Regions from separate parts of the Homo sapiens genome. Here region 2 is linked to region 1. The links come from fine-mapping of genetic effects on plasma protein levels. Region 1 holds a variant in brackets. A gene starts in the other region. All regions are shown on their reverse strands. Region 1 has its middle 19 kb from the start of PPP1R2. Region 2 holds the start of VSNL1 (visinin like 1).

Evidence for each region. PIP is the posterior inclusion probability: the model's chance that the variant is causal. Protein levels are from antibody-based Olink assays in UK Biobank. Linkage for the fine-mapping came from a reference panel and not from the study's own genotypes, which makes the PIPs less certain.
Region 2: it holds the start of VSNL1, and the variant in region 1 is fine-mapped to the plasma level of the VSNL1 protein (UK Biobank, PIP above 0.99).

What each region holds. Positions count from the first base shown.
Region 1 is chr3:195,561,189-195,564,100 of GRCh38, reverse strand. It overlaps the pseudogene RPL31P64. Among named protein-coding and RNA genes, the nearest start is that of PPP1R2, 19 kb to the right of the region's middle. The variant G/A (reference allele first, on the strand shown) is at 1,286.
Region 2 is chr2:17,539,210-17,542,121 of GRCh38, reverse strand. It overlaps VSNL1 (visinin like 1), which reads right to left and starts at 1,426. Exons shown (of 4, transcript NM_003385.5): 1 at 1,204-1,426.

The DNA.
Region 1 (2,912 bases):
TAAACCTTACCAATGTATATGTTATTTTGCAGTCAAATGTTCTACCCCCAAGCTATGCCCCCACTTAATTATTTTGATGTATATCTGGTTCCTTGGGGATATGTATATTTTACTCATATTCCATATTATAGTCTATAAATGCAAGAAAGTACTGTATTTTATTCCCCGGAGTTTTCCTAGTATGCTAATTATAATTAAAATATTAAAAAGCCAACCTTCAGCATCTTCAGTACACCCAGAGATCCAGGAGGAACAACAGCTCATTGCATTATAAAGTGACTCTCTCAGTGAACAAGGTTGGAAGACTTGAGAAAAGAGCTATCAAAGCTGAGCGTAATACATGTGGTTAAACTCTACCCCAGAGCTCTTGGTCTACGGGTGCTGTAGCCCTAATGCTGCCTCTGGGTATCTGTAGAGGGGAAGGTGCTCAGCTTCTGCTTAGAGACTCTCTGTGACCCCTGATTGACATGCATCCTCCTGGCTGGGTATCTCAGTCCTCGCCACCCAACTTGCCTGCCTCTTCTCCCGTGGCTCCTTCTCAGGCAGCCATTTTTGGTTTTCAACCAAAGCATGTCGCAATTACCCGGGGGGGAAATATATTGGTTCCTTGGGAAGACATCCCAGGATGGGGAGACAGAGGGCAAAAGGTTGCAAAACATTCTCCAGGGTGATTCAAACCTGCTTCCCTGACTTGACTGAGAACCACTGCTTTTTCAAAGAAAACTAATGACCACTTCCCATGCCTCCCCTGTCTGTACCTTTAGTACACATCACTCCTTTTGTTGAAATGTCCTGCTGCCAAAATCCAACCCACATCTGCTCTTTCGCAGAGCAATTTGGCAAAAACTAGTAAAGCTGAGGATGACCTAGTAATTCTCTTCTCTGGTAAATATCCTAGAAACACTTCTGCACATAAGCACAAGAAGATACATACGGAAATGTTCACTGCAGCACTGTTTGAAAGACAGAAAAACCAAAAACAACCTAAATGTTCATTAACAGAAGAACTGATTTAAAAATTGTGGGCTGGGTACAGTGGCTCACGCCTATAATCCCAGCACTTTGAGAGGCCGAGGTGGGCAGTTTACTTGAGGCCAGGAGTTTGAGACCAGCCTGGCCAACATGGTGAAACCCCGTCTCTACTAAAAATACAAAAATTAGCTGGGCATGGTGGCGCACACCTGTAATCCCAGCTACTTGGGAGGCTGAGGCACGAGAATCACTGGAATCTGGGAGGTGGAGTTTGCAGTGAGCCAAGATGGCGCCACTGCACTCCAGCCTGGGC[G/A]ACAGAGGGAAACTCTGTCTCAAAAAAAAAAAATTGTAGCATGCACACATATGTGCAGGTACGCATACACACCATGGAATACTATGCTACAGAGAAAATTAGAGCTACATGTATCAACATATATAATCTATAAAATACGTTGGGCAAAAAGCAATATACAGGATACAGTATGAAATATATAAAACGACATTATTTCAGAATACATAAATATGCAATAAAGTAAAATGAAATGCAGGAAATAATAAACACCAAATTCAAGGTCCTGGTTCCCTCCGGAGAGTGGAGAGAGAGGGCGGCATTTCAGTAGAGGAACACCAGTGGCTTTCATTGCATGGGTAACTGCATTAGTTTCTGTGGCTGCTGTAGCAAATGACCACAAACTCAGTGGTTTAAAGCACCTGAAATGTATTCTCTCATAGTTCTGGAGGCCAGAAGTCCAAAATCAGTATCACTGGGCCGAAATGAAGGTGTGGGCAGGGCTGTGAAGGCTCTAGGGGAGAATCTGTTCCTTACCTCTTCCAACTTTTGGTATTTTGGTGGCTGCTGGCATTCCTTGGTTTGTGGCCACAACACTCCAATCTTCAAATCTGCTTGTCTTCACAGGGCCTGTGTGTGTGTGTGTGTGTGTGTGTGTGTGTGTGTTTGTGTGTGTGTCAAGTGTGAAATCTTCTGCCTGTCTCCAAAAGAATACATGTAATTACATTTAGGGCCCACCTGGATAATCCAGGATAATCTCCCTACTTCAAAAGTCTAACTCGGCTGTGTGCGGTGGCTCACGCCTGTAATCCCAGAACTTTAGGAGTCTGAGGCAGGTGGATCACTTGAGGTCAGAAGTTTGAGACCAGCCTGGCCAACATTGCGAAACCCCATCTCTACTAAAAATACAAAAATTAGCTGGGCTTGGTGGCACGCGCCTGTAATCCCAGCTACTCAGGAGGCTGAGGCAGGAGAATTGCTTGAACCCAGGAGGCGGAGGTTGCAGTGAGCCACTGCATCACTGCACCACTGCACTCCAGCCTGGGCATCAGAGTGAGACTCTGTCACAAAGGAAAAAAAAAAGCCTTAACTCAATCATATCTGCTATGACATTTTTTCCAAACTGAACATTTCCAGGCTTCAGAGATGAGGACCTGGTAGCTTTGGAAGAGCATTTTTCAGCCTATCACAGTAATATTTTCTTAAACTGAAAGGTAGGTAATAGAGGATATAATGGCTTCCCACTTGGGCCCAGCAGAATGACTCCTGCAAAAAGGGTAGCCAGAAAAAGGGGGGTCATTCTGCCATCAATGAGGCAGTGACCTGAGGATACACCATCAACATTCACAGGTGCATCCATGGAGTGGGCTTCAAGAAGAATACCCCTCAGGCACTCAAGAGAGATCCAGAAATCTGCCATGATGGAGATGGGGACTCCAGATGTACGCACTAATACTAGGCTCAACAAATGTCTGGGTGAAAGGAAGGGCCGTACCACATCCATGTTTATCGTGCAGAAAACATAATGAGGGTGAAGGTTCAGCAAACAAACTCTATACTTTGGTTTAACTATGTACCTGTGACCACTTTCAAACATCTATAGACAGTCAATGTGGGTGAGAGCCAACCACTGATTGTCAAATAAAGTGAT
Region 2 (2,912 bases), not on the chromosome of region 1:
TCCTTTAGAAATTAAAATAAATATTAATATGTAGAAATAAAACTCCCCAGCTTTTCTTGCCTTCAACTGGAAAGTGATACACAAATAGTATGTACTTAGTGTTCTCCACAACCACCAACAATTCTATTTTATTTTAGTTTCCAAAATACGGACAGGAGGGCAACTCTAGAAAAATGGATTCCCACTCTGGCATCTCACAGGGCACTGATCAGGCAATGCGGAGCACTCATCATTTCCACCATGCAGGGAGCATCAGCCTCTCCTCGCTCCTTCCACGTACACATTCTTGTACCCCTGAGGGTATTCATCATTCTGATTTCCACCCGGGGTTTGACCTTGCAAAGACCCTTCTTCCAGTTTCTGGGCAAGGAACAACCCATTTTAACTCAAAACACAAAACGACCTTTTATCCTTTAAAGAAATACTACCAAATGTAACACACCTTGATTTACATTTTTTAACCCCAGATTCCGGATGGCGAACACGGAATGCAAAGGCAGGTAACTAGTTTGGGTCTGACAGTCCCCATTCAGCGACCGAGCCTGTGACTCCGTTCAAAATCGACAGTGCAGTAGAGCATCTTTCCCTTTTCTGCCCATTCACCATTGTGACAAAAATCAAAGACGAAAAAAATTATCTACTCATTTCTGAATACTGAGAGAAATGTGCTCATTTTGCGCCTGACTCCGTGGATCTTAAACACTAACATCCCGCTCAGAGATCAACCATGATTTCCATACCAATCTCATCCACTCAGTTTTACTTAGCAAACACCTTTGCTGCCCTTCCACAGTGAGAAAAATGGTGCACCAATCCCACGGATGACAGGTTGCTACTCGACTGTACCCGCTCAATAGTTTTATCAGCAACCGGAAAACTTCACAATCGGTCAATTAGCTACTTAAATCTGTCTAAGACAAACTAAGAAAGCATCTCAGTTTCACCTGTCTTAAATCTAGTCTAAGACAATCCCCCAAACACGCCGCATATAAACACTCCCCCTTCCCCCACCCCCAATATTCCAAAAGATCCCCCATGGACTAAGAGCACATTCAGATCGCCAGCATTAAGCAAGGAAATTGTCCCCATGCATTTAGACGCATCTATGCAAAGCAAAGTATGTGACAATAGCCAAAGCATTTCTCTGACAGTTGGTTGCACTACACATGCAGAAATGCAACGAAGATTGTATTTTCCACTTACAGTTACAGCGCTGCGCACGGTCACTTAACGAAAATGATAAAACTCAACAGTTCTTTTTAAAAATATATATTTAATTCGGGTAAACGCTTAAGCCGTCTCTGTGTGTGGTTCTCTCTCGCTCTCTTTTTCTCTGGAGCTCTGGGCTGCTTAAATCCCTCTTGGATCGCGCCTTGCAAGCCCAGCCGCTGCCGCAACACGCTCGGGTAAATCTCTGCTGCAGATTGGGAATCCCATAGAAAACCTAGGGTCCCTGGAGCTGGATGCGCAGGCGCGCGAGCCTCCGCCTCTCCAGGCACCCCCTCCCCTTTCCTCTCTTCCCTCCCCCCAGCTCCGCAGCCCCAGCTAGGAGAACTCGGGAGCCTGTGACCAAAAGCCGCCTGGCGATGGCGCATGCTCAGTCGGAGGGGCTCGGAGTTTCCGCGGGTGGATTCCACGTCTCCAGATTTTAGCAAAAGCTCAAAAGGAAAGTATATAGGAAAAGGGAGTCCGGCTACCGGAGCAACCCGCACCTGGACGGGCGCGAGGGACTGCGGGTTACCCGGACTCGCCACGCCCAGTGGTTACCGAACCTGGGGGCTGAAGGCCGAGGCCAGAGATGGAACACGTGGAGCCGCTTTTCCCGCTGCTTTCTGTCCTAGCCGACCCCCGGCCCACCCTTTGTTAGGCTGTAAGGTGAAGGAGAAAACTGCAGAAATCTCCGAAAGAAGACTTCCCAGCAAGCTGTGAGCACGTCTACCTGGCTTACTGAAGGAACGGTTATGGTGGTCATTTTGTCATGGGCCATTTCATCAGAGGGTCTTCTGCTAGGAGTACTGGGAGCCGGGTCCTGCAGCACCCAGTGCCCCGGACAGTCTCGGTCCAGAACGGCGTTGAAAAAATGTGTGTTAAAGGGAGCTGGGATCCGAGGCTTCTTGCCCTGTGTACCCTGAGCCAAGCGCCTTCTGTATGCACTTAAGTGTTTTTAACATATGCTTTGCGTCTGGGGTGGGAGGGGGTGGGTGAAAGGGCGGGAATGAACCATTTTGCGAACCCACGTTTAAGGGCTCTGATTAGGCCATCTTATAAAGCCCCCTTTGTGTCCTTGAACAACTAACAGGTTTGCCAGCCCTCCCCCCGGCTCCCCATTGGCCTGCCAAAGCCTAGAAGGCTTGGCAAGGAGTAGTGCCCAATAAATGTTTGGTCGGTCGCTTCCCTACCAGAAAAGCAAGGAGAATTCCCAGATGTTCCCAACCAGACCAGTTTTCCTCAAGTGTGTATGTTGTACATGAACTCATTCAACAATTATTCATGGAAGCATTTGCAAAACTATTAGACATTCCTTTATGCTTTGGGAATAAGTGCGGTTAACAAAACCCCCTCCTGGGCTTTACATTCAGGTGGGAGTTTTATTTTCAAGGGAGGGAAGTTCTGGGGGCGAGATGAAGATCGAGGTTCTCCTTAAGCAGAGCGCTGTACAATTTGCACAGCGTCTTCACACACCTTATCATGTTCAGGAAAACTGTAGAGTTGACCTACCCTTCGGTGCTGGGGACACCAAGAGCGTCTCCCGTGGCAAATGAGCTCTAAATTGACAAATCTCCAGCTGCTCCTGGTTCCAAGTCGAGGAGTCCAGCTTTGAACAAACTTGAGACTACTTAAGTGGGCACCAGGAGAAACTCCGCCAGACAAGTCTGTGGCTGTCGACATGCTAAGTGAGGGCCTCAGGCAGT